Linked DNA regions of Homo sapiens. The protein of the gene in region 4 interacts with the protein of the main gene of each other region in a pairwise test. Each region holds a gene or a part of one and is shown on either strand. Other genes may lie near its edges.

Region 1 (7,475 bases), on a different chromosome or scaffold from region 4:
CCTGAATGCTGAAGTTTTACCAGCTCTCTTGGGCTGTGTACCCTTCATCGTATCTTCCAGGTTCCTTAAAACCTACCCTTGGGCACAGCTGGGATGTGCACTGGCTCTTCACAGCTAGATCCAGCATGCACTGACTCTCCCCGTGCAGGGACAGCCCCAGAGGAATAGAGGTGGCGTTCCGGCCGCTCCAGCGTGGCCCACAGCGTTTCAAGTGCAGCAAGCACAGACAGGACGCGGGGTTACTAGTATTTTGGATTGACTGCAGATTTTGAACTGTCTGCCTAGATGAACTATACCATGTCCCTAGGGCCAAGTCCCATGTGCATTTTGTGGCTACTAGACCCTCTTCAGAAATCAAACACAAAATAGCTCTGGCCTGTAAAGAAAACAAACTTCACCAGTAAAATTGTTTCCTGTTCCTATCCACCAATGTGCATAGCACAGTGTGTAGTCTGGGTAATACGGTTTGCATAATTTTTTGATAATGTTCTACTTAAAAAGGGCAGCGTATTTATATATTACTTATGTAATTAAAAAAAAAATTCTTCTGGCCGGGTGTGGTGGCTTACGCCTGTAATCCCAGCACTTTGGGAGGCCGGGTGGTTGGATCGCCTGAGGTCGGGAGTTCAAGACCAGCCTGGCCAACATGGCAAAACCCCATCTCTACTAAAAATATAAAAATTAGCCAAGTGTGGTTGCGGGCGCCTGTAATCCCAGCTACTCGGGAGGCTGAGGCATGAGAATCTCTTGAACCCAGGAGGTGGAGGTTGCAGTGAGCCAATATCCTGCCACTGCACTCCAGCCTGGGTGACAGCACAAGACTCTGTCTCAAAAAGAAAATAAAAATAATAAAAAATAAAAATTCTTCTATCTGTATGCCTAAGTGTATGCATACTAACAAAATAAGTATAGTTACTGCTTATTGAGCAGCTACTAAATGTGAGGCAGTGTGCCAGGTACATTCTGTAAGTGGTAAGATGGTGCTCCTCTCCACGTTGGCTGAGCACGGGGCGCTGGAGATGATGGCGTGAGTGGGTGCCGGCTGGGGGCCGGCCCACAGGCTGTCTCTTTCCTTCTGTTCGTATATGAGGTGGTTTGTCCCCAAAACTATTCTGTTTTCTTTCAGCTGCTGTAAGCCAGTTTCTTGTGTTTTTTTTTTTCAAATAATAACACTTACATTTGAATACTGTAAGCTAGATATGTATTATGCTGTAATATGATAAACTAAGTCTTTATTAAGATATAGGTTATTCACACCTGTAATCCTTATTCACACCTGTAATCCTTATTCACACCTGTAATTCCAGCACTTGGGGAGGCCGAGGTGGGTGGATTGTTTGGGCTCAAGAGTTTGAGACCAGCCTGGGTAAAATGGCAAGACCCTGTCTCTACCAAAAATACAAAAAACAATTTAGCTGGGCATGGTGGTGCACACCTGTAGTCCCAGATACTCAGGAGGCAGAGGTGGAAGGATCGCTTTAGCCCAGGAGGCAGAGGTTGCAGTGAATGAAGATCTCGCCACTGCATTCCAGCCTGGGTGAAGAGTGAGACCCTGTCTCAAAAAAAAGATAGAGGTGATTAGAAAGTCTGCCTGTTTTTCTGCCAAGGTCATTCCTGTCGTTATGACTCTGGCTTCTTGCTCGTGGAGATAGCGCTCTCCCTACAAGTCACTGTGCTGTATCCTTCCCGTTATCACACCTCTTGTAAAATAGTTCACACGCAGCACCATCTCCACCCGTTGGAAGCTATGCATCCCTCCACTGGAGCATCTGTGCTTTACACAGACTTCTGTTTTTTTTTGTTTGTTTGTTTTGTTTTACTTTGTTTTTTTGAGACGGAATTTTGATCTTACTGCCCAGGCTGGAGTGCAATGGCGCGAACTTCGTTCGCTGCAACTCCGCCTCCTGGGTTCAAGCAGTTCTCCTGCCTCAGCCTCCCAAGTAGCTGGGTTACAGGCATGTGCCACCACACCCGGCCAATTTTGTATTTTTAGTAGAAATGGGGTTTCACTGTGTTGGTCAGGCTGGTCTCGAACTCCTGACCTCAGATGATCCACCCACCTTGGCCTCCTGAAGTTCTGGGATTACAGGCATGAGCCACCGCGCCTGGCATTTTTTTTTTTTTTTTAAGAAATGAGGTCAGGCCGGGCGCGGTGGCTCACGCCTGTAATCCCAGCACTTTGGGAGGCCGAGGTGGGTGGATCACGAGGTCAGGAGATCGAGACCATCCTGGCTAACACGGTGAAACCCTGTCTCTACTAAAAATACAAAAAATTAGCCGGGCGTGGTGGCGGGCACCTGTAGTCCCAGCTACTCAGGAGGCTGAGGCAGGAGAATGGCGTGAACCAGGGAGGCAGAGCTTGCAGTGAGCCAAGATCACGCCACTGCACTCCAGCCTGGGTGACAGAGTGAGACTCTGTCTCAAAAAAGAAAAAGAAAACAAAAGAAATGAGGTCTTGGCCAGGCACAGTGGCTCATGCCTTTAATCCCAGCACTTTGGGAGGCTGAGGCAGGTGGATCATGAGGTCAGGAGATCGAGACCATCCTGGCTAACACGGTGAAACCCTGTCTCTACTAAAAATACAAAAAAATTAGCTGGGTATGGTGGCGGGTGCCTGTAGTCCCAGCTACTTGGGAGGCTGAGGCAGGAGAATGGCGTCAACCCAGGAGGCGGAGCTTGCAGTGAGCCACTGCACTCCAGCCTGGGCAACAGAGCAAGAGTCCGTCTCAAAAAAAAAAATGAGGTCTTGCTCTGTTGTGCAGGTTGGGAGAGTGATGTGGTCATGGCTCACTGTAGCCTCGAACTCCCGGGCTCAAGTGATCCACTCACCTCAGCCTCCTGAGTAGCTGGGACCATATGCTCGTACTGTCACGCCTAGTTAATTTTTTTTTCTTTTTTGTATTTTTTGTAGAGATGGTGCCTTGCTGTGTTGCCCAGGCTGGTCTAAAACTCCTGGGATCAAGTGATCCTCCCACCTTGGCCTCCCAAAGTATTGTGATTACAGGTGTGAGCCCCATGCCCAGCCTCAGACCTCTATTTTTTATTTTTATTTTTTTTTCCCCAGAGGGAGTTTCGCTCTTGTTGCCCAGGCTGGAGTGCAGTGGCACGATCTTGGCTCACTGCAACCTCCGCCTCCCGGGTTCAAGCAATTTTTCTGCCTCAGCCTCTTGAGTAGCTGGGACTACATGCACTCGCCACCACGCCTGTCTAATTTTTTTGTATTTTTAGTAGAGATGGGGTTTCACCATGTTGGCCAGGCTGGTCTCGACCTCCTGACCTCAGGTGATCCACTTGCTTCGGCCTCCCAACGTGCTGGGATTACGGGTGTGAGCCACCGCACCCGGCCCAAAGCTCTGTTGTAACAAGTTTATGACACAGTGTGTATCATATGACCACGGGTATGTGGGTTTGCCCTGCGTTAGACTCGGTGCTCGAGGGCTAAGCCTGGTCACAGACATCTCCGCATTTGTTTCTCTGCAAATGGGCTCCTTGCCCCCAGCTCCACCCCACGTAGAGATAGGCACAAATAGAGTTAAGATGTGAGTTGAGTGAGCACACACTCCTCGTAAGCCACTTGTCATTCCTAAACTACGACATCTCAGGCTGCCAGCTGCACTGGGCTCCAGTCAGTGACACCTTACAGGCATGGTTCTCTCCTGAGCTGGATGGATCAGCACCTATCTTGTTTGATTCCTCTCACAGGGTCTGGGGGTGGTGGCATCTCCCCTAAAGGAAGTGGTCCCTCTGTGGCAAGTGATGAAGTCTCCAGCTTTGCCTCAGCTCTCCCAGACAGAAAGACTGCGTCCTTTTCGTCGTTGGAACCCCAGGATCAGGAGGATTTGGAGCCCGTGAAGAAGAAAATGAGAGGAGGTTAGTGTCTGGTTGTGTGTGTCCTCAGTCCTCTCGTGTGCTCCTGGGGCATGCGGGGGCCGCTGCCATGCTCCGTGCTGTGGGGCATTGCTTCCTGCAGGGGCATGTGGACCCTGCCTCAGGTTGATGCCTGTAACACCTCCGGCATTTTCATTCAGAAAACCTGGGCCTGTTTTTTTGCGGTTTGCATAATCCAGATAGAACTGTGATTTGCTACAGGCTGTTCTCTTGGTCTGGAAATAGTGCATTCTGAATTGCAGAATTAATCTCAAAATCCTCCTTCCTGGCCAGGTGCAGTAGTTCATATCCGTAATCCTAACACTGGGAGGCCAAGGCAGGAGAATCACTTGAGGTCAGGCGTTCGAGACCAGCCTGGGCGACAGAGCAAGACTTTATCTCTAAAAATAAAAATCAAGCCTGACACCGTGGCTCCCGCCTATAATCTCAGCACTTTGGGAGGCCAAGGTGGACGGATCATCTGAGGTCAGGAGTTCAAGACCAGCCTGGCCAACATGGTGAAACTCCGTCTCTACTAAAAATGCAAAAATTAGCTGGGTGTGGTGGTGCATGCCTGTAATCCCAGCTACTTGGAAGGCTGAGGCAGGAGAATTGCTTGAACCCGGCAGGTGGAGGTTGCAGTGAGCCAAGACTGTGCCATTGCACTGCAGCCGGGGCAACAAGAACAAAACTCCATCTCAAAAAAAAGAAAATCAAAAAGAAAGCCCTCTGTCCTGGTAGGACAATAATTTCTAAAAATGTAGCTTAAATCTTCACATTGAAGATGATTTAGGGAGAAGTCTGCACTTTGAAAGCCAAAGTTAAGATTATTAGAAAACATTTGGGAATGTTATGGTAGAAGCATTGCTGTATAGCAGTCCAGAGAGCAGCCAGCCACTGGGGCACTGTGACAGGAAGGTTCTAGGAGGGGTCCCCAGGGAAAGAAATTAGGTTATCTGACACGTGGGGTTGATCGGTGTGGGGAAGGTGTGGAAAGAGTCAGCAACAGTTACACAGGAAAAATAAGCACAGGAATGAGGAAATTTTAATTCTAGCAAACATGAAAAATTGTGTAAGTCACACAACTTAATCTAGTAAACTACTTGGCTCAGCAGTGAATACTTGCATAAGCATAATAATACAAATACAGTATCATGAACTAATGTAATCTGTTAATGTAATGTTGGCAGGGGTGTCTCAGGACAGAGTTTTTCTCTACCTTAATAGATGTCAGGAATGATGTCTAAAATTGATAAATCAAATGTACCATGATAACTTAGAAACACAGAGGTAAATACCAGAAGAAACAGCTCAAAGACATGAAAATAGTTTTCCTCCGAGGAGGGAAATTGGGTGAGGAGCGGCTGAGACGGAGGGTGACTGCCTTTGTTTTCTTCTAAATATATTATGTATACATTTTTTTAAGAGACAGGATCTTGCTTTGTCACCTAGGCCAGAGCGCCGTGGTGCAGTCTTGGCTCACTGCAGCCTCCACCTCCTGGGCTCAGACTGTCCTCCCACCTCAGCCTTCCGAGTAGCTGAGACCACAGGTGCACGCTACCATAGCTGGCTAATTTTTTTTCCCATTTTTTTAGAGATGGGGTTTCATTATATTGCCCAGACTGGTCTTGAACTCCTGGGCTCAAGCGATCTGCCCACCTCAGCCTCCCAAAGTGCTGGGATTACAGTTGTGAGCCATTGCACCTGGCTTCTTCTAAATACTTGGCTTTTTAAATTGTGTACAGTTTCTTTAATTAAAAATAAAAATTAATTGATTACCAACATCTGAGCATTATAGAAAAATAAAAACACCAGAAGAGGGTGGGGCGCGGTAGCTCACACCTGTTACCCTAGTACTTTGGGAGGCCGAGGCGGGTGGATCACGAGGTCAGGAGATTGAGACCATCCTGGCTAACACGGTGAAACCCTGTCTCTACTAAAAATACACAAAATTAGCCGGGCGTGGTGGTGGGCACCTGTAGTCCCAGCTACTCAGGAGGCTGAGGAAGGAGAATGGCATGAACCCGGGAGGCGGAGCTTGCAGTGAGCCGAGATCGCGCCACTGCACTCCAGCCTGGGCGACAGAGCGAGACTCTGTCTCGAAAAAAAAAAGACTGCATGTATTTCCTTCTCGGTTACGACAGTTAGAACACATCCCTTTCTCCTGTGGACGGGGACCTTGACCTGAACCTGCGTGTATTTCCTTCTTGGTTACGACAGAACACATCCCTTTCTCCTGTAGATGGGGACCTTGACCTGAACGGGCAGTTGTTGGTCGCACAACCGCGTAGAAATGCCCAAACCGTCCACGAGGACGTCAGAGCAGCGGCTGGGAAGCCAGACAAGATGGAGGAGACGCTGACATGCATCATCTGCCAGGACCTGCTGCACGACTGCGTGAGGTGCGACCGTGTTCACCCTTGGCTCACGGAACATGGCACTGCAGGTTCTTCGTCCCGTGTGGGGCAGGGCTGGGCATGAGACAAGCCTGCAGGTCCTGTTTGGCCTGGCATCTGCTGAGGTTACTCTGTCACCCAGATAAGTGGGTGGAGTGGGTGGAGTGGGTGGAGCTTTCTCAGCCCACTGCAACCTCTCCCTCCCAGGATTGAGCGGTTCTCTGACCTCAGCCTTCTGAGTTGCTGGGACTACAGGTGCACACCACTATGCCTGGCTGACTTTTTTTTTTTTTTTAATGTTCTAAATATTTTTTATTCCTTTTTTTTTTTTTTTTTTTTTTTTTTTTTAGATGGAGTCTCGCTCTGTCACCAGGCTGGAGTGCAGTGGCACAGTCTTGGCTCACTACAACCTCAGCCTCCCGGGTTCAGACGATTCTCCTACCTCAGCTTCCTGAGCAGCTGGGACTGCAGGCGTGTGCCACCATGCCCGGCTAATTTTTTTGTATTTTTTAGTAGAGACAGGGTTTCACCATGTTGGCCAGGCTAGTCTTGAACTCCTGACTTCAGGTGATCTGCCCACGTTTGCCTCCTAAAGTGCTGGGATTATAGGCGTGAGCCACTACTCCCAGCCACCCTGCTGATTTTTGTGTTTTTTGTAGAGACGGTTTCGCCATGTAGCCCGGGGTGGTTTTTTGTTTTTGTTTTTGTTTTTTGGAGTTAGAGTCTCGCTCTGTCACCCAGGCTGGAGTGTAGTGGTGTGATCTTGGCTCACTGCAACCTCCACCTCCCAGGTTCAAGTGATTCTCCTGCCTCAGCCTCCCAAGTAGCTGGGACTACAGGCATGCGTCACCACATCTGGCTAATTTTTTTGTATTTTTAGTAGAGACGGGAGTTTCACCATATTAGCCAGGCTGGTCTCGAACTCCTGCACTCAGGTAATCTGCCCACCTTGGCCTCCCAAAGTGTTGGGATTACAGACGTGAGCCACCCCGCATGGCTACCACTTTCATTCTACTCGTGGCACCAACAAGGAGGAAACCTGGAACCCAGAGCCGGAGGCTGTAGACCCCACAAGTTTTGAGTGTGTGGGTCGTGTGTGACCCCGTGAACTCTGCAAACAGATGAAAGGAACTCTGCACATTTTAAATGCTCCTTATCTGGGAAGGTGTATTTCGCATAGAATGAACGTAGGAGCCGCTGAGGAAGGGCCTC
Region 2 (8,198 bases), on a different chromosome or scaffold from region 4:
GACCAGGATGACCAGGCTGTTTCCCAGAAGACTGAATACAAACAGGAGGCAATAAAAGACAGCAAGGAGCAACTTGCCATTTGTCTGAATAAGTTCCGCATCACAGGGGCTTGAGAAGATATCAGGGTAGTAGTAGTCGGTCACTGTTGTCACACTGAGGTCAAGTGTATAATCCATCAAGGCAGCGGGACCTGGTCACAGAGACACATAAAAGACATTCACTCCTTAAAAACATTTTTATTTTTTAAAAATTAGGGGGATGTTATGGACTGAACTGTGTCCTCCCCAAATTCATGTGTTGAAGTGCTCAACCTCCGGTGTGGGTGTGACTATTTGGAGTGGGTGAGACTATTTGGGCCTTTAAAGATGTAATTAAGGTTAAATGATAGACCGGGAGCTGTGGCTCATGCCTGTAATCCTAGCACTTTGGGAGGCCAAGGTGGGCAGATCACCTGAGGTCAGGGGTTCAAGACCAGCCTTGCCAACATGGCGAAACCCCGTCTCTACTAAAAATACAAAAATTAGCCGGGCATGGCGGGTGCATGCCTGTAATCCTAGCTACTCAGGAGGCTGAGGCAGAAGAATCACTTGAACCGAAGAGGTGGAGGTTGCTGTGAGCCGAGATCACACCACTGCACTCCATCCTGGGCGACAGAGTGAGATTCTGTCTCAAAAAAAAAAAAAAAAATTAAAATTAAAAAAAAAAAAAAAAGGTTAAATGAGGTTATAAAGGCAGGGCCCTGGCTCTCACAGTGACTCACACCTGTAATCCCAGCACTTTGGGAGGCCAAGGTAGGCGGATTGCTTGAGGCCAGGAGTTCGAGACAAGCCTGGCCAACAGTGCAAAACCCCGTCTCTACTAAAATTACAAAAATTAGCCAGGCATGGTGCCACATGCCTGTAATCCAAGCTACCTCGGGAGGCTGAGGCACGACAATTTCTTGAACCCAGGAAGCAGGGGTTGCAATGACTCGAGATCAAGCCACTGTACTCCAGCCTGGGTGACAGAGTGAGACTCTGTCTCAAAAAAAAGAAAACAGAAACAAAACCAAAAAAGGCAGGGCCCTAATCTGATAGAACTAGTGTCCTTAACAGAAGAGAAAGAGACACAAGAAATTTTGCTCCCCTTGTGCATGGAGTAAAGACCATGTGAGGACACAGCAAGAAGGCTGAAATCAGCAAGCCAGGTAGAGAAGCCTCACCAGAAATCAACTGCATTGGCAGCTTGGTCTTGGACTTCCAGCCTTTAGAAGTATGTTAAACAACACTTTCTGTTGTTTAAGCCACTCAGTCTATTGTATTTTGTTATGTAAACCAAAGGGAGTCAGCTGAGATGAGAAAAGCCAAAACTTACAAAGAAAATGTAAATACCCATAGTTCCATCACCTAGAATTAGCAGCTGCTAACATATTCTCACAATGCTTTGGGTTATTTTTTTTTCCTTCCTTCCTTCTTTTTTTCTCCCTTCTTTTCTCCCTCCCTCATTCCCTCTCTTCCTTCCATCCCTCTTTCTTTTTTTATTTCTGATGCAATAGAGATGAAGCTAATGTTCCCTTTAACTACACAACTTATCCCCATAACAGAAACAACAACTAAAACCAATTTGGTATGTATCATTCCAAACAATTTCCCCCTGTACTTTTACATATTTATATATATCCATAAACAATATATATTTTTGTGTGTTTTAACTTACATAAATGATATATTGTTTTAACTTACATAAATGATATATTGTTTTTCCCTTTGTATTTTGCTTATTGTTTTAGAGATATATCTGCATGATATTCATCAGTTTATTCTTTTAATTGCTTTCCTAAGCACCAGAAAAAAAATAACTTTATAAATGCAATAGAAAAATGATCCCAATTATACTAGCAATGAAAATTACTAGCATTACTAGGAATAAAACTAATAAAAATGCAATTCAGTTACATAAAAATTATAAAACTTGACAATTCTTCTCAAATTGATATATACATTCAATGCAATTTCAATCCAGACATATTTTTCCAAGGCATTTGTTTGCTTTACATTCAGACACCCCTCTCCACTCTGCTACTTTTCTATGATTTGAAAGCACAAGCAAGCAAGCAAGCAATTTATTTATTTTTTTAGAGACAGGGTCTCACTATGTTGCCCAAGCTGGAGTACAGTAGTTATACGCAGGTGTGATCTCACACAAAGCCCTGACTTCTGGGCGCAAGCAATCCTTCTGCCCCAGGCTCTTGAGTAGCTGGGACTACAGGCACCCACCAGCAACTTCTTTAGTCATATGAAAGTTTGCTCGCTGGCTTCTTTCCTTAAGAACAGCACCCAGGTGTCCTTCAGTTACCTGATAGAAGCCCTGTACCCAGCACAAGGACAGATCTTCCCAGATGCCTGGTATTATAAAGGATCTTCTCTTATCTACCTTCCCACTCTTGTAGGAGTTTTCACTCTCTCCTAAAGGCCTGCAGAGAATATGGCACGGTTTGCTCTCCTCAGCCAGAGCATGGGCAGCCACTAAGACACATGCATGTTTGTGGGCTCTGAGGAAATGCAAAGATTTAAAAAAAAATTTTACTTCTTGTGCTAGACCTCTGAAATTTTGGTCTTCCCTTTGCCTATCCTCTAAAGATATAAAAATGCCCCTGCCTACTCATGCCCTTCTTCCCCAAGGATGCTTGTAGCACATACCTTAGTGACAGCCTTTGTTCTGGAGGTTTCAGTGTTGCCAATTCCTTCTTCACAAAGTCTGTATCCTCATGTGAGTGCAGCTCAATGAGCAGCAGCCTCTCTGGAGGTATCCTCCCACTACAAACAGCAGATGGAGAGAAGGCAGTCTCTTGAGGGCTCCACCCTCACACCTAGTCACCTAAAGGGAGGCAATGAGGGTTAAATGAGATCGTAAGGCTGAGGCCCTAATTCAATAGGACTGGTGTCTCCTAGGTAGAGGAATACACACCAGAGCTCACTCTCTTGCCTCCAGGTGCTCAGAGGAAAGGCCATGTGAGGACACAGGGAGAAGGCAGCCATCTGCAAGTAAGGTAAATAGGCATCACCAGAAACCAGACTTGTGGGCACCTTGGTCTTCTAGCCTCCAGAACTGTGGGAAAACAAATTTCTGTTGTTTAAGCTACTCAGCCTGTAGTATTTTGTTATGGAAGTCCTAGCAGACTAATACAGGGGTTAATGGGAATTTTCTGTGTTGTCTACCTAGATTTTCTGTAAACTTAAAACCTCTAAAAAATAGTCTATTAAAATTTTTAATTGAAATCAGTATTAAAATGAAATCATAATTCCATTATTATTTTGAAGTTATACAATTTATACCAGGACTGGCTTTCCTCCATGGTATGTAGCATACACAAATGTGTGTGTATGTTGTATGCATGTACATATATTAACTCTTTCAACAGGAATGCCATTTGAAAATCACTTTAAGTCAGTTTCCCCTATCCCAGGAGAGTGAACATGAGTCCCAGAATTGTTGGGAGGAAATGACAGAAGTTCCAGAATCTCCTCATCTCCAACCCACTCATTCCTGGAGAAATGCAGTAGAAATATCTGCTGGATGCCAGGTACGGTGGCTCACATCTGTAATTCCAGCATTTTGGGAGGCTGAGGCAGGAGGATTGCTTGAGCCTAGGAGTTCAAGACCAGACTGGTCAACATAGCAAGACCCCATCTCATACGGTTTGGCTCTGTGTCCCTACCCAAATCTCATCTTGAATTATAATCCTCATAATCCCCATGTGTCAAGGGCGGGACCAGGTGGAGTTAATTGGATCATGGGGGCAGTTTCCCCCATGCTGTTCTCATGATAGTGAGTGAGTCTCAAGAGATCTGATCTGATGGTTTTATAAACACCTGGCATTTTCCCTGCTTGCACTCACTCCATCCTGCCGACCTGTGAAAAATGTGCCTGCTTCTCCTTTGCCTTCCACCATGATTATAAGTTTCTTGAGGCCTCCCCAGCAATGCAGAACTGTGAGTCAATTTAACCTCTTTCCTTTATAAATTATCCAATCTTGGTCTTTCTTTATAGCAGTGTGACAACGGACTAATGCATCATCTGTACAAATTTTTTAAATAAAATTAGCCAGGCATGGTGGCATGCACTTGTAGTCCCAGCTACTTGGGAAGCTAAAGTGGGAGGATCACTTGAGTCCAGCAGTTTGAGGTGAGCTATGATTGAGCCACTGACCTGTCTCTAAAGAAAAAATAAAAGGAAATATCTGCTGGTACCTGAATTCATACCTCGGCAAATTCCCCTCACCATCATTCATGTTTTGACGCAGTTTGGGGAAAACCCAGTTCCTTTATGAGAGTTTTGTATGTGATAAGCAAAGATCAATGGTGAGCCGATGGAGAACTCAGGGCCCTCAGGTATTACTAGTCCATGTCATGATGGTGGGAACTATGGGACCGCCTCATCAGTGAGGGCAGGTGTGGGGGAAGCCACCTTCCCCTCCAAAGCCCAGTTAAGCAAGGCCTGAGGGACTAAGGTGGAATTCCCCCCAAGCCCAGTTTCTAGTGCAAGCTGATCTAAACCCCAAACAGTCTCTATCTTCAGTTCCTGAGGATTCTTTTATCAGCTGCTCCTCCATACTTGGCACAGTGCTTAGTGCACAGCAACTTCTTAATAAATAGTTGAACAGAGAGAATGAGGCAAGGTGGAGATGTGGAGTCTGGTGAAGAGTTGGAGGAAAGGACTGAACAGCCAGAATGGAAGGATGCTCCTCTTTTTGTGTTTCCTGAGCCAGATCTGAGGGCTGGTGTGGGCCCCTGCAGGACTGGACACTTGCCTGCTGTCACCTGTGTATTTGTTTCCTGTGGCTGCTGTAACAAATTACCACCAACTTAGTGGCTTAGAGCAGCAGACGTGTATTCTCCCCCAGTTCTGGAGGCCAGATGGCTATAATCCAGCAGGGCTGCCTCCTTCTGGGTGCTTGAAGGGCGAATTGTTCCTTGCCACTTCTGGCTCTTGGTGGCTGCCCCAGCAAACCTGGGGCTTGTGGCCACATCACTTTAATCTCCACCATCTTCACATCTCCTTCTCCACTGTGTGTCTGCATCAGATCTCACCCACCTCTGATTTATGAGAACACTCATGATTGGATTTAGGATCCGTCCAGGTAATCCATGATAATCTCCCCATCTCAAAATCCTTGACTTAATCACATCTGCAGAAGCTCTTCTCCCAAGTAAAGTAACATTTACAAGTTCTAGGAATTAAGACTTCATCTCTTTGGTTGACCATTATTCAACCCACAACATCCTGACTCGGAAGACAGACAAACTGTGACATAGTTAACTGACAAGCCTTGGTTCCTCACCTTTGGGCCTACATCAGGGATTCAGGCATTCTATGGGAAGGCAGCAGAAACCAAACTACAAAACCAAAGTAGTGTGACCCCTCCAGAGCCAATGGCCTCTCCAAGTCTACCTTCTGCTGCACATTCAATGGGTTCTGAAAATGCTGGATCAGATCCATTGGGGACATCCCATCTAAATTCAATTCTACTGGGTCCCTCCAAAGGTTCAAAAGACTGTATTTCACTTCAGAGGGAAAAAGAGACTAGCAGCATATTTGACCTCCTTTCCTCCAAAATAAAGAGAAAGAAAAAACTGTATTTAAATAAACCCTAAGTGTAAATGTAGAAATTACTACTATCACAGATATTTGTCATAGAGTATTAGGGCAGAAAATGGCCTCAGGTCATACAGCTGATGTCTCTCTCCCTCTCTTTCTTTCAAAGTAGTAATATTTAAGTCCAGAGAGGCAAAGTGGCTCACCCAAAATCACACAGTAATTTGGTGGTAGAGCCAGAGCCAGAACTCAGGTCTTCCGAGGCACAGCTGAGGGTGCTTTTCTTACTGCACCACATTCAAAATTCTCGTGCAATAACATTATGAAGAGTTGTGGATAAGACTAGAGGAAGTCTTTCTGTATTTTCTATAGTTTTCAACTATATGTCAGTCCCTCAGTGATTTGTAGGGTAAAAATGCATTTGCTTAACGAAAAGTGTTAGACAAAGCCAGAGTTTAAGAAAAGCTCGTGTGTTATTAATAGTAAAGCCAGTTTTGCTGTCTATATAATTTAATTTCCCATATGGATTACAAAAAAGAGTAACAAGAAACAGATTTTCTTTTTTACTACTATTTATTTCCTTCATAAGAGTAATCATGACAATTGTCAGAATACAAAAAAAGGTATCATCATAATTTTGATTTGAAGGGTTGAATATGGAGAAATGTGGTTAATAACGTATTTTTAGTTGCATTTTCAGGAAATTCATATTACCTTGTGTGCCAGAATAATTGATTAGATCTCTTAGTGGTTTGTTTTGTTTTGTTTGAGACGGAGTTTTGCTCTTGTTGCCCAGGCTGGAGTACAATGGTGCAATCTTAGCTCACTGCAACCTCTGCCTCCTGGGTTCAAGTGATTCTCCTGTCTCAGCCTCCCTAGTAGCTGGGATTATAGGCGCCCGCCACTACACCTGGCTAATTTTTGGTATTTTTAGTAGAAACGGGGTTTTACCATGTTGGCCAGGCTGGTCTCTAACTCATGACCTCAGGTGATCCACCCGCCTCAGCCTCCCAAAGTGCTGGGATTACAGGCATGAACCACTGTGCCCGGCCTTTCTTTTTTTTTTTTTTTTTGAGACAGAGTCTTCCTCTGTGGCCCAGGCTGGACTGTAGCAGCATGATCTCAACTCACTGCAGCCTCCACCTCCCAGGTTCAAGAGACTCTCCTGCCTCAGCCTCCAGATTGGCTGGGACTACAGGTGCATGCCACCATGCCCGGCTAAATCTCTTAGCCTTTTGGTGGTGCTTTATTCCCAGAATTTATCTTCTACAAACATGCTCACCACCTTTTTCCAAGGCTACAAGCACTGAAGTGCCTAGCATATTCTCAGAACTGCTTTTGCCATTAGAAGGGATAAAAAAATGAAATTTATGATTTCCTCACTTAAGGAGCTTAGCAATCATGGCACTTTCATCACAGGAGTCCCAGGAGGTGATGGTTCTCTGAAGAATGATGAATAATGAAAGGAAAAAGTATCACTGTGAAAACCATGTAGAAACCCAGAGAAATCTTTATGATTAAGGTGGCATGTATACTATGACTGTCTCTTTGCGAAGCATGGATGAGTGTGGGTACATCCAGAATGAAATAGGCAGAAATTAAAACAATCTTATATTAGGTTATTTCTTTTTATTCTTAAAATTCTCTTTAATAAAGGCACGCTGTCATTTCAATTACAAGTTTTTAGGAAATAGAAAATTGCTATCAAGCACTAATTCAAAGCAAACACATTTTCATGTTGTGAATGATTTATTGATTAAATTGGAGATCAATTTAATAAGCCACACTTGTAATTCTCTCCCATTGACTTGCAAAAAGCACCTGCATTGCCAAAAGTGGTACACAAAGGAAGCCTGAGTTTATCATTATGAAGTTGGGGAGAAAAAAAAAATATGAGGCCAAAGTAGTGTGAGTCCTCCAGAACCAATGGCCTCTCCAAGTCTATCTTATGTTCAGTACCTGGGCCACATGAAAAACTCTTAAGGGGAAACTAGGAAGAGTTCGCCTCTGCCCAGGAAAAATGCTCACAAGTTAAGGGTAAACGTAGAATGTCAAGATACTTCTCTTCTTCACTCCTGATAATATTTACCCTGTTCCTCTGCATAGAAGAGGGGTTTGTGAAATACTGTTTTATTCCCTCTTTTCTTCTCCATCTTGTTACAAGGCCAAATGCATTCATTACTGTGACAGAGGAATACATGAAGGGCTTCAGGAGCAAAAGGGACTCTTGATTCTTCCTGGGTCTTCAGGGTAAGAATGTGGAGGAGATCAGGGAGCTGGCCTTAAAGAATGGGTGTGCCTTCCAGCCGGGAGTGAAGCATTAAGAAAAGCATTTCTTGGAGTCTCCAGAGCCTTGTCCCAACTGGGCTACCACATTGCTCTGGAAACCTGGGAAAGCCACTAAACCTTTCTGAGTTTTAGTCCAGTGCTACTTTAATGTGTACCCAAATCACCTGGGACTCCTGTTAAGCAGCAGATTATGACTTAGCAGTTCTGAGCCTTGAGATTCTGCACGTCTAACAAGCTCCCAGGTGATGTTAGTGTGGCTGGTCACATTTTGACAAGGCATTAGGATCTTCGTGTGTAAAATGGGAATAAAGCTTTCATGAGGGTTGGGCGCAGT
Region 3 (7,002 bases), on a different chromosome or scaffold from region 4:
GCTCCTCATCAAATTTGTGACTCATCTCCGGAGAGCAAGAGCCTGCCTGTGGCCATTGCAACATCAGGGAGTTTCCCCGAGGCTGGGATTTGGAGGGCCTTAGTGCCACCCACTCCCCATGATGGATTGGGGTGATGATGGGGCAGGGTGGGGGCAGTTTTCTTACCTTCCCACTGCAGAGAGCAGTGAAGGCCACATATGGCCCCTGATCACGCGGTTCTGGAGCCCAGGACAGACCCAGAGCTGGGAACGGATTGGAGTGAAACCTTGTTCTCTCTTTCTACTTGGCCCTTCTCAGGGAGAGAGTGGAAGCCCACATGGGTGCTGGAGCTGGGGATGCTGGAAGACTATTTGCTAATTCCTCCCTCCACCCCAGGTGTTAGCACCACAGGTGTGGCCTGGGCCTGGCCCCATATGGAACACGCCAGGTGAACCTATCAACCAGATCCATGGGAACTCAGATATATTACCTTTTCCCACAGCATCGATCCTTTTAGTCAAGGCAGAAATTTCTCCCTCTGTAAATGAATAACTGGCCTTCCCCACAGAAGGGCAACAGAATTCTACTGTACGGGTTTGCCAGTTTCTCTCCCACTGTGGGGCCATTTGCTGGGCTTCGGTAAACGTTACTTATGTGCGTCTCATAAATCAGGTGTCTGAGTTCTCAGGCTGTGGCTGCAGTCTACCATTGAATTACATCCCGTGAGCAATGTTGTCCGATTTCACCGGCCAGCACGTTCTTCTCGAGTGTGGGATTGGTTTTTGCAAGACCTCGAAAGGATTTTGATAAGCCACCTGCTTAAGGCCGGCTGAAAAAGAAGAAAGGAGGGCATATGTGGGTCAGCTCACTCGGAATAGAAGAGGAATCAGGTATTATTTTCCCTTTCCCACTCTCTATTCCTGCCTGTTCCTGCCTACTTTTGCCACTTTGCCACAGAGCCTTTGCCCAATGAATTCCTGCCTGGGGGCTTGGAAATCACATTGGTGTTGGAGTCAGATGAGTTGGGTGAATCCAGCCTCTGCAGTCTGAGCAGGCACTGCCTTCCTTAGCCTCCTCTTCCTCACCTAGAAAGTGGACATCCTGAAACAGACCTCACAAGGGAGTCAGGCGATTAAATGAGATGACTGAGCCTACTCCTGTGTGTGGCTGCTGAGTCGCACTGGGTGTGCTTGGGCAGGTCTTACTGCTCTCTGTTTCCTAGACTGTATGTGAAGGGATGGTCTGGATGAGGGGTTGCAAACTTAACCTCCCATAGCTTCCATGCGTGTGAACCTGATGGGAGGGCGCCCTGTTCACGGGGCCTCTGCTACACAGCACCAAAGAATTGGAGCCCCGGGGGGACCCTGGAAGGTCAACTCCAAGGGCCCAGGGATGTTCCTCTCTTTTGTTCACTGCCATATTTTCAGTGCCCAAAACAGTGTCTGACAAAGTAGATGCTTAATAAATATCTGCTGAATGAATGAAATTGAATCAGTGTTGCTGGATGTTCCAAACTTTCAAAAGAAACTGGAAAGCTGGCTCCCAATGGGGAGTTTCAGTACTGGTAACCAACTCAAGAGCCTGGGGGCTTGGAGTTTTAAAAAATACCATGTGGTTCAAATTAAACACATGTGCAGGCTGGATCTTGCCTGTTGGCTCAGCTCCAGGCCTTCTGACGACACTCTGCTCTCCAGGAAACCTGCAGGGGCTGGAACACTGATCACAGGGTTATCACTGATGAGGTCCTGGTGGCCCAGCCGCTGCCAGCCTCTCAAACCCTGTCTCCAGGCTCCAAGAACATGGCATTCTTTCCATTCCTGGAATGAATGAGTCTTTGCTGCTATTCTGTGAGGACCAGCCCTTCCCGTGCAGCTGTGGGGACTGCCATTCTCCCCATTCCCCCAAGTGTCTTGGAGTCCAGTCACTACACCCTCTCCCCCACTCCATGGAAACTGACCTTGGAATGGCCTCCTGGCCCACGGACTCTCTCCTCCCCAGGGCCTGACAATGTCCCGCCTGCCTGTGAGGGCCCAGGTAGGGCCCACCCACCACCTGACCTCTCCATTCTCTATGTTGTCTCCAACCTCCTTCTTCTTCCCTCTACTTCAGCCACCTGGTGCCAGGGATACACTTGGTCCTTGTCATCTCCTGAGATGGCTCTGCCTCTGGAATGTTCTACTCAAACATTCCTGCTCTGTGGCTATGCCTTCCTCTCTCTCTTTTAATGAGACAGGGTCTCACTCTGTCAGCCAGGCTGGAATGCAGTGGCACAATCTTGGCTCACTGCTTGTAGCCCTGACCTCCTGGGCTCAGATGATCCTCTTGCCTCAGCCTCCCAAGTAGCTGGGACTACAGGTGCGCACTACCACGCCTGGATAATTTTTGTATTTTTTGTAGAGACGGGGTCTTGCTATGTTGCCCAGGCTGGTCTCAAACTCCCGGGCTCAAGCCATCCACCTGTCTCAGCCTCCCAAAGTGCTGGGATTACAGATTGCACCCTTTGTGGAAACCAGGCTCACGGCTGATTCCCTTCACAGTGTACAGAAGATCACGCCTGGCTCTTCTTCTGTTTCTTGCTGTCACCCAGGTTCTCTCACTATATCCATCCTTTAACACACTGATCTCACTTCACTTCCTTCTCTCCCTGTGCTCGTTTCTTCCCTCTCCATCATTCCCCCGAGTCTGACCAGGATCCCCAACTCCCATGACGTATGGCCGTCTATCTGGCTAAACCCTACTCCAGAGCAATCCTTTCCTGGGTCTGTCGAGCATTATCAGAGTAAATTCACACAACACAGCCACGCTTTCCAGCTTCAATGGGGCCCTCAAAGCTGCCTGGAGCCCACCATCCTTCCTGGGTGAACTGTCTTTGCCAGCTGACCATGGTGGACCCAGCCTGTCCATTCTCCTCCAGCCCCAATTCTCTCCATGACCCGCCTCCTCCTCTGCCATCCTTCAACCTCTCCCTCCTAACCTGTAACCCCACCTGCCTCTGGGCCTACTTTGTTCCTTCTGTCTGGAACACTCCTTTCCCCCATTTTGCTTGGCCAGCTTCTCATTTTTTGGGATTCAGTTTATGTGTCTCTTCCTCCAGGAACCCCTCTCTAACCATCCCTCCCAGCCACCCAGACTGGAGCCCTGCTCTGGTTCTCACGGCACCCCTCACCCTGATGGTGGCGGGCATCCTGCTCTATGACAATCCCTTAATTATTGTCCTGGTTGCTGTGAGCCCCTGGAGGGTAGAGACACCGTTAGGCTCACCGTTGGGTCTCTCATAGCAAGACCCGCACCAATGCATTACACGTTCAATAAGAGCATGCACAAGCATTCTTTTGTGAGCAGCTCACCCTTTCCCGCCTCTGCCAGCCCTTCCTCCCTGTCTCCACGTATCCAGATTGCACCCTTTGTGGAAACCAGGCTCACGGCTGACTCCCTTCACAGCGTCTTCTCTGCTAACCTGAGAGGGAACCCATCCCCTTTCTCGCTGAAGGCGCAAGATGCTGGATCCGTGGTGTGTTCATGCAATTTCTCATTTCATTTTTTATATTATAATATTTAGATGTATGTAAGTTCCTTGAATATAGAACTTCTAGCTATACCATCCCTGTATTCCTGGCAGTTAGCCTAGAAAGCTTTGAATAGACAAATGGAAGTGTAATAAGAGAGGCCATTACCCGATACTTGTTATTTGTTTCCTGCTGCTGCTATGACAAATTACCAGAAACTCGGTGGCTTAAAATACAAATGGGGCCAGGCGCAGTGGCCACGCCTATAATCCTAGCACTATGGGAGACCAAAGTGGAGGATCACTTGAGCCCTTGAGTTTGAGACCAGCCTAGGCAATGCAGGAAGACACCATCTCTACAAAAAATAGAAAAGTTAGCCAGGCATGGTGGTGCACACCTGTAGTCTCAGCTACAGGAGGCTGAGGTGGGAGGATCCCTTGAGTCTGGGAAGTTGAGGCTGCAGTGAGCCGTGATTGTGCCAGTGCACTCCAGCCTGGGTGACAGAGCGAGACCCCATCTCAAAAAAGCAAAGCAAAGCAAAGCAAACAAAGCAAAACAAAACACAAATGTATCCTCTAACAGTTCTGGAGGCCAGAAATCCTAAATCTGTTTCCCTGGGCTGAAGACAGGGAGTTGGCAGGACCCATTCCTTCTGGAGGCTCCAGGGGAGAAGCCATTTCCTTGCCCTTTACAGCCTCTAGAGGGTGCCTGCAATCCTTGGCTCGTAGTGGCCGTCCTGAATTCCTCTGGCCTCTGCTTCCATAGTCACATCTCCTGACTCTGAGCCTCCTGCCTCCCTCCTATAAGGACCCTTGTGATTATATAGGGCCCACTTGGATAATTCAGGATCATCTCCCCATCTCAAGACCCTTAATTTGGTAACATTCATCAAGTCCAGGGATTAGGTACCCCCCAATCTACGGGAGTAATCATTTAGCCTATCACAATAGCATTTATTATGTCACAAAGAATTGATAAGAAAGCCAAGCTTCTTGGTTCAATGCTGTTTTAATTCCGCCAGAAAAGTTGGAAGATTTCTTTCCTATGGGATGAAGATATTGGAGCAAGACTTTTAGGGGTGCATTGTTTATAAAGTTCCCAGACCTTGGTCCTGAAGAGCCGGCCCACAAAGACATAAATTACTGGATTCAGGGAGCTGTTAGTGAAGGCAAAGAAGTTGGCCAATTGCAGGCCCAGGTCAATGAAGTCCTCCCAAAAGCAGCCTCGGACTGCTTGCACCTGGAATAAGAATTCCAGGAAGGCAAAGAAGTGGTAAGGGGCCCAGCAGACCAGGAAGGCAACCACGAGCGTGAGGATCAGCGCTGTGGTCTTGCTATCCTTGCGGCCCCCGCACCTTGTCCTGCTGACCTCCTCCCGCGTTCGCAGGGAGGCCAGGATGTGGTAGTTGAAGAAGACGATCGCAGCCAGTGGTAGGAGGAAACCCAGAATATTTAACTCCACAATCCTTGCAAAGTGCCAGGCCTCATGGGGGAGGAGCAGGATGCAGGCGGTGATGTTCAGATCTGGGACGGCTTGGATGGATCGCAGCAGGAATGTGGGGATGCTCAAGAGGCCCCCCACAACCCAGATGAGCACGCAGGTGACCCGGGCCTGCCTCCGCCGCTGCTGCCTCCGGCTGGCCATAGGGTGCACCAGCACGCGGTAGCGGTCCTGGCTGATGGCCACCACCAGGAAGATGCTGATGAACAAATTGGCCTTGATGACCCCGTTGATGACACGGCAGAGGAGGGCTCCGAAAGGCCAGTTAAACTGGTTCCAGATATTCTCTGCCCAGAAGGGCAAGCCCAAGACAAACACCAGATCAGAGGCTGCCAGGTTGGCCAGGTAGATTTCTGCCACGTTCAGTTGCCGCCGGGGCAGGAGGAAGACCAACAGGACAAAAAGGTTCCCTAGGAGGCCGAAGAAACAGATGGAGATGATAAATGTTGGCAGCACTCTGTGCAGCAGGTCCCAGGCTTCTGGAGCATTGTCACAGGCCGTAGCATTTTGAGGGAAGAGCTGGCTCTGGTTGGAGGATTGGAGCTCTAGAGGGGGCCAGGATGATGCCATGCACAGTGACCTGAAATGAACAGAAGGTAGAATAAAACAGGAAGTGGCAGACTACAGCCTATGAGCCAAACCAACCTGTCACCTGTTTTTGGACAATAAAGTTTTATTGGCACAGAGCCACACCCATTCCTGGACGTATTATCTACAGCTGTGTTCATGCTACAAGGGGGAGTCGAGCGCTTGTAACAGAGACTGTCTGGCTTGCAAAGCTGAAGATATTTACCATCTGTTCCTGAGGGGGAAAAGTTTGCTGACCTCTGGTTTAAGGGATGGTGCCTGAGTCCAAATCCCGGTACAATCACTCAGTGTGAGCTACTTAGAACCATTGACTTTTACTTTCCTTTTTAAACATTGGAGAGAATCGTGTCTCTCTTGTGGGATCACGGGAGGGCTGTTGTCAGGATCTACAGGGTGCTTAGCTCCGTGCCTTGCATAGAGGAAAGACTTTGGAAGGTAGTGATTAGTCTTAGTAACAACTGTACCATTATTATTATTACTATTAGGGTTTTAACAGGCATTTAATGAGCCTCTACCTCTTGCCAGCCCCTTGCCAGGCACTGGAGATATGCAGGACAGAGCAGCCCCAGCCTCATGGGGCTGCAGACATGGAGGCAGAGGTCATGGCTTGAGATAGAGCTGAGGGAAGCCCGGGAACAGCAAAGGAAGCTGACCTGTTGGGGCTGGGACCAGTGTGGTGGCCGGGGTGGGGACAGTGCTAGGAGGTTCCTCTTACAGGCTTGAAAAACATGAGTATTGGCCGGGTGTGGTGGTTCACACCTGTAATCTCAGTACTTTGGGAGGCCAAGGCAGATGGATCAGATGAACCCAGGAGTTCAAGACCAGCCTGGGCAACATGGTGAAATCCTGTCTTTACAAAAAATACAAAAATTAGCTGGGCATGGTGGTGCATACCTGTGGTCCCAGCAACTCGAGAGGCTGAGGTGGGAGAATCGTTTAAGCCTGGAAGGTCGAGGCTGCAGCGAGCTATGATTGTGCCACTGCACTTCAGTCTGGGCCGACGGACTGAGACCCTGTCTCAACAACAACAACAACAACAAAAAAAAAAAAAAAAAAAAGGAGAGAGAGAGAGAGAAAAGAAAAAAGAGAAAGGAAAGCATGAGTAATAAATAAGGATAACAACTAACATCTGTTAGATGGTATTAATGGTCTGTGTTCCAGGCGCCATTCTAAGTGTTTCACATTTAAGTATTTTCTCATTTAATCTTCCTGGCAGCCATTCAAGGTAGGGGCCATTGTCATCTCCAGTTGGCCAATTAGAAAATTGAGTGCTGAGACCCGGAGTCGCCTGTCTGAGGTCACACAGCTGGTCAGTAGGGCCTGGATTCAAACCCAGGCAGTCTGATTCAAGAGCCTGATTGAGATCCTGTGCTTCTGTCTGCTCTCTTCTGCTGCACCTGTCCCCACGCGATGAATGACAAAGCCAGG
Region 4 (8,138 bases):
GGGTAGGAAGGGAAGGATGCGAGTGGGACGGGAGAGAAACGGGGCTGGCGCCTGAGGTCTGAAGTGGGAGTATGAGTCGATACAGTGAAGCACTGAGGATGTGGGGGAGAGGAAACGGTTTTGGAGGGAACGAGTTGGGTACGGAAGGGAGGCTGGTTTGAGGGAGTGGTGGGGTCGTGGAAGGGAGCCTGGGGCTGGGTAGACAGAAGCCTAAGAAAGGGAGACAGGACATGGAATTGAGAAAAGACGAGGGAAGGGGTACACGGAAGGAAAAGATGTGGGGAAGAGCGCGAGAGGCCTGGCCAGGGTTGGGATGGGTGGGACAGGCTGAGAAAGTCCATTAGGTGAAATCCTAGGAGGCAGCAGGCTGGAAAAGGTTCCAGCGAAGGTCGCAAGGAACCCCACAGGGGAAAACGTGGTGGGAGCTCAGGGTCTCCCAGCACCCTGCCGCCCTCTGCTGGGCTCTGCCTGACACCGGCGAGGCTCAGTCTGGGAGGAGGTGGAGCCCAGGGAAGTGTAGCCAAGCAGGGACAAGGAGAGACCGCAGCCTCGTGGAAAACCGGGACTGGAGGCAGGAAACAGGTAGGGAGGGAAGGGGGTGGCCGCAAACTGGGGTGGGTTGGGGAAGGTGCGAAAGGACGACGCCCCGTAGCCTAAGGGCAGAATTTCAGGGGGGTGGAGGGTGCAGAGTGAAGGGGAGGGCATTGCAGTGCGCGCGGTAAGGGTTTCTCATCTCACCTGAGTGTGGCGTTCGATTCACTGGCAGCAGGAAAGACGGGGATCAGAGAAGAGTTACCACTGGCGCCCAGCTTCCCTGGCCTGATCCCCAGCCCCCTCCCACACCTGTCCATGCTGAAGACCGGGGAGAGCAGAAGCCTGCGTTTCTGAGGGGAGGGTGCCTGGGGATAAGAACAAGGTGGGTCTGGGGGTAAGGGGGTCAGGACTTATTTTCTTCTTCGATTTTTCATAGGACAACAGAATTTGAGACGGGAATGCCAATAGCTAAGTTTGGGGCAGATCTTGGTTCTGTGGTGCCTGAATATTACAAAATTGGGAGTCTTTAAGAAAAAAAATTACACATACAATTGGCTTTAAGCAATTGCTGTTAAAATCTTATTTCTGCAATTTTTACAAAAGCCTGTTACCATATGAACACATATCCATCGAGCCCTCTATATTATTAGAGCACAGGAAGAGGGCCCTGTAGGTGAGGAACCTTGAAGTCTAAGTTTCAGTAGTGTCATAAGTCCACCCCTGGATGGGACTCTCAATTTCCAGAATAAAATGGTAAACTAGAAGCAGAATAACTGAGTTATGTGAGGAAAGTAAAGCCCAAGGATCTTGAAAGAATCTACCAGGGTAGAGGAAGTATGAGGCATACAAATGGGATGACTGCATCCCAGGAGAGAAGATGGCAGAGAGTTCGGGTGCCTAGAAAAGGGAGAGTTTGTAAAATTACGTGGCAAAAAAAAAAAAAAAAAAGTAGACAGACACAACACTGATTCCCTTAGGGAATAATGGAGGTTGTCTAGGAAGTACAGAAAAGGACCTGTCTTCTTCCCACCCCATCCCTGAGTTGTTCTTCATCTTCTGATAATGCTGCCTCCAATTTTAAGTCTTTTACCCTAATATGTTTCCACCCCCAGAGCTCCCCTTCTCAATTTTTCTTAGTAGAATGTTTGATTTATTTCTGAGTCTTTACAATAAATCAATTATATAAGGAATGGTGAGGGATGAATTCTAGAAGAGGGTGATGCATGGAAATTTCTAAGTTTAGAGAAAGGGAAAATTGGAGTATTTAAACCTGAAGAAGGTGAGAGAGGTGAGATTCATAAAGGAAAAGAGAAAACGTGAGGTCTAAGAATCGGGAGCAGGAAGATTTTTTTAAAAGGTAAAGGAAGGAAGCCCCCAACCTACAGAGGATACCGGGGACTGCAAGAGGAAGTTTGAGGCAGGTGATGGAGGAAAAAGGGACTTTCATCTCCCCTTTCCAGTGTCCTCCCCCACATTTTTATAGCTCTCCATTCTTTCCCATTATCCATTCCCACCCCACTCCCATCCTCACACAAGCGTCCTCATCAGCTGCATGCAGGCAGCTGTTCCCCTCACCCTGGCAGTGGGGCTTGGGGGTGCTCCACTGGCCCTGACTACAGATGCTCCGGGAGCTGCCCACCAGATGGAAGTCGGGGTCACACCGGAAATCCACCCGGGCTCCGTCCAGAGCTGGGAGGTCCCCACCCGTCAGGAAAACCTTCCCATTTTCCAGGGTCAAATAAGACTTGGAGCAGATTCGGACTGTGGAGAGATAGGAAAATAAGAAGAGAGGCGAGTTGAAGAAGGCTCTTTCCCTTTAAAGAGCAGGGGACTCAGGTGCAGGTTTGGGTCCACAAGCATCCTGCTCTAAAGAAAATCACATGTGAAAAGGATTTGCCTACCTATCTTCCAATCCTCCCTTACCTGTGCAAGCATCCACACATTCCCAAAAGAAAAAAAAAATTACCATTTTAGGAACCCAAGATGGGGCTATAAGCACACAAAATGGGATCTCTTCAAAGTCAGCTACAGTGGGCGGTTCTCTGGCTTTGAAATATGTAGATGTATATAACTTTGGATGCACAATCAGATTTGCTTTTCTTATTATAGTTGGCTTCTATTAATATTAAACTGGCTTTTGTTTCTTGGGCATATGGTCTCTGGGTTGGTGACAGAGGTATTCAAAAATGTGATGAAATCATTTTAGAATTTTTTTGTCATCATCTGCCACTAATGATCCTCAAAGAGAATAACTGACAAGATGAATTATCAATGTTATAGGCCAATGATCAGTGGCCTAATGAAGGGAGGATGAAATGAACTGTGCAGGCTGCTAGCTCTACTACCTCCAACCGCACAGAGCAAAATTGCTCTTATGTAGTAGTCATTCAATAAATGTATTTGTGAATTTTGGTATACTGGATTTAAAGTGCTGACTTGCAAGCAGTAATGCTAAGTTTGCGGCAGGAAAAGGAATAGTCTTGAAGAGGGGAGGGGCTTCCGAGGCTACTCACCACAGCGGCTGGGTGTGTCCATATCTGTCCAGGAGCCGTTGGCCAGGCACTTGCGGACCTTGGGCCCCACCACCTCGCGCTCCCCCCGGCACACATACTCAATCTCATAGTCCACTGGCAGGAAGTTGATAGCCTTCACCTGGTCCCGAGTCAGGCCCCGGTACCTGATGCCCCCTTCCCAGGGCGGGTGTATGATCTGGCAACCTAAGGGGTGAGTCGGGGAGGCATACAGAGAGGAATGGTGGGAAAGAGGAAAAGGCAGGCTCCCCAGTGGGAGGAAGGGGAGAGTAGGGCGTGGTCTGTGGGCAGGCTGGGGACAGAGGAAGAGGGATGGGGCACTAGAGGGTGGGAGTGGGGACAGGTACAGATCCCCTGGCTAAAGGACAGAGAGTAAAGGGCCAGGGTTAAAGCTGATGAGAGAACCCACAAGTGGGGAGGGAAGGGTGCTGGGTGGAGGTAAGAAAGAAAAGTAATTAAGAAATCATGAAGGGTATGATATGTGGGTGGAGCTTTTCTTTAAAAAAAAAGGCTAAATGAGGATATTCGAGTTGAATTAGGATAGGAGGATAAAGGGAGGCTAATAAGATCATCTGGACAGCAAAGTGGGACCAAGAAAAGGGAGTAATTGAGGTAGTAATGTGGGGCTGGGAAAGGGGATTGAGGCGGAGAAAATGCACAGGAAGGTGGTATAGTGTAGCAATGTGGGCAGAGAAAAGAGGTGCTGGATAGTAACGTGGGGTGACAGAAGGAGGTCAGCAGTAGTAAAGTCGGGCCGAGCAGAAGGGGTTGCCAGACCGGGATGATATGTGGGACTGATGGGATAGTGATGAGGACCAGAAATGAGGAGATGCAGGGAAAGGGAAGTGGAGCGAAGGAGGGCCGGAGGTCGTCGAAGAAGGATGCACCTTCTGAGGTGGCGTTGGGGGTCTGCGCCCCGCCCGCGCCCGGGGGGCGGAGGAAGAGTGGCGCCAGTAGCAGCAGCAGCAACATCTAAGTGAGAGGCGGCCATGAGGACTGGACCGAGCCCCGCCGGCGCGGCCCGCACCCGGAGACTACTCGACCTCTTGCCGGTTGCCTCGCAGGCTCCGACCGGGCTCAGCCTGGGGACCAAGAGAGCGCCCCGCGGAGGAGGCGGGGGCGGAGCCCCGCGCGGGGTGGGGGGAGAGGAGGAGAGAAAGCCTGTCCCCACCCTCCTCCTGCCTCCCTCGGCCCCCAACCCTCCCGGGACTCCACCTCTCACCACCTCCTCTCCCCCGGCCCCCGCGGCTCGCAGAAGCCTGGCTTACCCACGCTCCCGGCATCGGCCGCCTCAGCGCTCCCCGATTCCATCCCCGCGGTTCCTCCTCTCCCCCAGCCCCGCTTCCCCCAGCTGGGCCCTGCGCCCACTGCCCCCTCCCCCACCACGCCGCGCGCCCCCTCTCCGAGCCCTGCTAACCCGGGGCCCTGGCTCTTACCTCGGCGCGCGGGCCCGGCTCCCCGGCTCTCCCCGGGCCTCAAGGCCCCAGGCCCGGCCGCTCCTCCCCGCTCCCCCCTCCCTTCTCCTCCACCTTTCTCCTCCTCCCGTCCCTCCTCCCCTCGAATCCAGGCTCCAGCCTGGCCAGGGTCTCTCCCCTCCTCTCTCGCTTCCCCCAAACCCCACCCCTGTCTCTTCTTCCCCGGGGCGGCGGCAGCCACGGGAGCGGGGAGCGGGGAGCCGGGAGGGAAGGAGGCGGCGCCGGGGACCAGGGAGAGCTCCCGGGCGGAGGGAAGAAGGAGGGTGCAAGGGAAGGCAGGGCGGGGGGAAGAGAGGGGAAGACCGGGGAGAGGGCGCCTCCCACAACCCGAGCCCCGGGAGCCGCCCCGGATCCCAGCCCCGCCCTGGACCGCCCACAGCGCGGTGGGGCGGGCGGTGGAGAGGCGCGGGGCTGAGAGGTGGGGGAGAGGGAGGTGCCCTGGTGCACACGCACTCGTCGGGGGGCGCCGGTCACTGCCGAGGGACCTGCGGGCCAAACAACTGGAAGCTGGGGTGGGGGAGAGGGAACCCGAGCCAAAGGCAGAGGAGCTGGCGCTGAGACAGGGAGTCTGGGATGAAGGTGGAGAAAGACGGCTGCACAAAGAGAAGGCAGCCCTAGATCCGGGTGAGAGGAGAGAGGCAGAGGCAGATGCCCAGGAGAACTGCGACCGGAGGGCGAGAAAGAAGCCTGGGTCAGAAGGAGGTGGGGGAGGGGGACTGAGGACCACCTAAGCGCAAGAAGGGTTGGGTGTAGAAGAGATTTCTGGGAGACTAGAGCAGCTCCATGGTCCAGCAGCATTGCTACTCGCCTGCTCTGCAGGGAACGCGCAGAACGGATTGGAGGCAAAAAACAAAACAGGGAGGGGGACATCAAGGAGAGAAATTGAAGTACGAAGGGAGTAAAAGGACAAGAGAAAAGAACCTCAGGGTGGTTTAGAAGCCAGTATTACCTGATGTACTCCAGCAGAGCCTAGCAAACAGTATTTCTTGACCAAGGGCAAACTGGAAGCTCTAAAGACAGCAGGTACAGACCTTTTTGACGGCTCCAGAAGCTCTTGGCTATACCTTGAAGTGGAGGGGTGTGTGTGTGTGTGTGTGTGTGTGTGTGTGTGTGTGTGTGTGTGTGTGTTGTGCTGTTGTTGTTCGTAGGCCTGAGTTTGGGCTGGGAGAGGAAACAGTGGGCTCCTTGTTGGGGGGGACAAAAAAAAAGCTGCTTTCTGGCTGGTCCTAGGGGGAAAAATGGTAGGAAGAAACCAAACACTGAGAGACTGACTAGAATTGAGATTCTCAACCTCCAACCCTTTTTTACAATAAATATTTTGTAATGACACTTTTACTGTCCTAAATTGAGATTCATAGATGAGGCTCACGCCTGAAATCCCAGAACTTTGGGAGGCCGAGGCGGACTGATCACTTGAGCTCAGGAGTTTGAGACCAGCCTGGCCTGGCCAGCATGGCGAAACCCCATCTCTACTAAAAATAGAAAAATTAGCGTGGTGTGATGGTGTGCGCCTGTAATCCCAGCTGAGACACCAGAATCGCTTGAACCCGGGAGGCAGAGGTTGCAGTGAGCCAAGATCGCACCACTGCACTCCAGCCTGGGTGACAGAGCAAGACTCCATCTCAAACAAAAAGAAAGGGAAGGAGGGAGAGAAAGTCATAGATGATATAACCTACCTACATACACAACTTTAAACAGAAAGCAAAATGCTTCCCTTTCTGTAACGTAAAGGGGAAATGAAAGAAAAGTAACTTGCAATAAAATAACATAAACAGTATTTTAATGTGTGAGTGCCAAGGCCCGACTACCCTAGAAGTCCTGATGGAGTAAGCAGATGCTTCCACCTATTCACAGAACCACGGGGATGAAACTGCTACCAACACAGGCTGATCCAGGTGCTGAGTTGGTGACTCAACTACCTCCAGCATGTTGCCATCAATGAAGTGATTTAACAAAATGTTGAACAACTCTTGGTAGCAAAGTTAATTTTCCCTAATTTTACACACAACTATAATTGCATTCCTAGAAAGTTCACTGTATATTTAAAAAAAAATTTTAAAACTGTATTAAGTTATAGGCTCAGATAATTAAACACAGGTTTTCACTACGTGAATGTCCTGGGGGACTTTTGAGAATCTGGGTGAGGAACAATTCTTCAACATGTAGGTAGTGCTTTGAAGAATATCTTACACCTCTGCCCCAACCATAAATGTCAATAGTGCCCCTTCCCTTATCACCTGAGGTTGGGAGTTCGAGACCAGCCTGACCAGCGTGGAGAAGCCCCAACTCTACTAAAAATACAAAATTAGCCAGGCATGGTGGTGCATGCCCGTAATCCTAGCTACTCAGGAGGCTGAGGCAGGAGAATCACTTGAACCCGGGAGGCGGAGGTTGCAGTGAGCCAAGATCATGCCATGCCATTGCACTTCAGCCTGGGTGACAAGAGTCAAACTCAGTCAAAAAAAAAAAACAAAAAAAAACAGCTAAAAGATGCATCAAAATGTTAACAAGGATTGCCTCTGGGCCATTAATTGTTGCATAACTTTTCTTTTTTACTTTTTTTTTTTTTAAACAAGAAGTTTATTTAAACAACAAGACGCTTGACTTGAAGGGAAAACTATCTAGGATTCTTTTTTGTTTTAGAGTAATTTATCCCTACTTAAAGACAGATTGCTCTGCATGTAACAGCTAAGTACAAAAAAGTTATAAAATTGTCCTTGGTTTTACAATGATAAATGAAAAACATTAAAATTCTCCAATTGAACAAGGTATGCAAGGATTTTTATGTTGTTGTTTTTTTGTTGTTGTTGTTAAAACAGTGAGAGCAAAATAACTTACTGGAATATAAAGATAAGAGCTGAATGAGCATGCCACTAATGGAGAAAGGGGGTATTTTCACAGAATCAGTATTTTTCCGCCCCGTCTCCACTTGATGTCAATCAAAACATACCATTGGCTGTTTAGTTTTAAAAAAAAAAAGTAATATGCTTGTGCACATATACCAGTTACTTTATGTACAGTAAAGGAATGGGGAAGGGGGAAATGAAAGAATAGAGAAAACTATACGGTAGTAGTCAGGATGTGGTGGAAGCAAATTGCAGTTTTCTAATTGAGAATGTAATCTTGGTCTTTAAAGAACAGAGTTCTGGAGTAAAGAAGCAGGTTCCCTTTTCAGTAGACACCTCCCGTCTGCTGTTGGAACACATCAATTGTATCTTCATCCTCCATTTCCAACTGTGCAGGTGTGTCTGTTTCATTGGTTGCCCGTCGAATCGGAATCTGATCTGCCTCATTGACAATCCCTGTCGTTCACAATAGGCTTTCATTAGTTTACTAAGTGGTGTATGCCTCTTAATCTTAAACTGCACCACAGAACCATCCTGCCCCGCCACCTTCAAATTAATATGATCGTTGTTCTCAGTCTTGACTCCTTCCTTGGGCTTTTCTTCGGCCATGGCGAGCGCCGGAGTCTCCTCAGCTGCCGCTTCACAAAAGAGGTACCAGGTCCGCTCCAAACGAGCACACAAGCAGCACCAGGAGCGGCAGAAGAAGGAGGCGGCAGCAGTGGACAAGGGGAGAGGGTGCGCGCACGTCGTGC

What was found.
Region 1: the proteins of GABBR1 (region 4) and CHFR interact in a two-hybrid assay, tested with the Homo sapiens proteins (one large-scale study listed by IntAct).
Region 2: the proteins of GABBR1 (region 4) and CCR8 interact in a two-hybrid assay, tested with the Homo sapiens proteins (one large-scale study listed by BioGRID and IntAct).
Region 3: the proteins of GABBR1 (region 4) and BDKRB1 interact in a two-hybrid assay, tested with the Homo sapiens proteins (one large-scale study listed by BioGRID and IntAct).

What each region holds. Positions count from the first base shown.
Region 1 is NC_000012.12:132,857,862-132,865,336, reverse strand, and holds part of CHFR (E3 ubiquitin-protein ligase CHFR), read left to right. Parts: intron 1-2,911; coding exon of another isoform or gene 2,912-3,004; intron 3,005-3,702; coding exon 3,703-3,870; intron 3,871-6,109; coding exon 6,110-6,269; intron 6,270-7,475. UniProt on the Homo sapiens protein: E3 ubiquitin-protein ligase that functions in the antephase checkpoint by actively delaying passage into mitosis in response to microtubule poisons.
Region 2 is NC_000003.12:39,324,311-39,332,508, reverse strand, and holds the start of CCR8 (C-C chemokine receptor type 8), read right to left. Parts: upstream 2,801-8,198; 5' UTR 2,680-2,800; intron 192-2,679; 5' UTR 178-191; coding exon 1-177.
Region 3 is NC_000014.9:96,262,237-96,269,238, reverse strand, and holds the end of BDKRB1 (B1 bradykinin receptor), read right to left. Parts: exon of another isoform or gene 6,628-7,002; intron 6,588-6,627; 5' UTR 6,469-6,587; intron 5,567-6,468; 5' UTR 5,557-5,566; coding exon 4,495-5,556; 3' UTR 4,476-4,494; downstream 1-4,475. UniProt on the Homo sapiens protein: This is a receptor for bradykinin. Could be a factor in chronic pain and inflammation.
Region 4 is NC_000006.12:29,628,349-29,636,486, forward strand, and holds the start of GABBR1 (gamma-aminobutyric acid type B receptor subunit 1 isoform a precursor), read right to left. Parts: upstream 4,836-8,138; 5' UTR 4,502-4,835; intron 4,435-4,501; exon of another isoform or gene 4,349-4,434; coding exon of another isoform or gene 4,334-4,348; intron 4,038-4,333; coding exon 3,953-4,037; intron 3,254-3,952; exon of another isoform or gene 3,252-3,253; coding exon 3,048-3,251; intron 3,042-3,047; exon of another isoform or gene 2,296-3,041; coding exon 2,110-2,295; intron 760-2,109; coding exon 739-759; intron 1-738.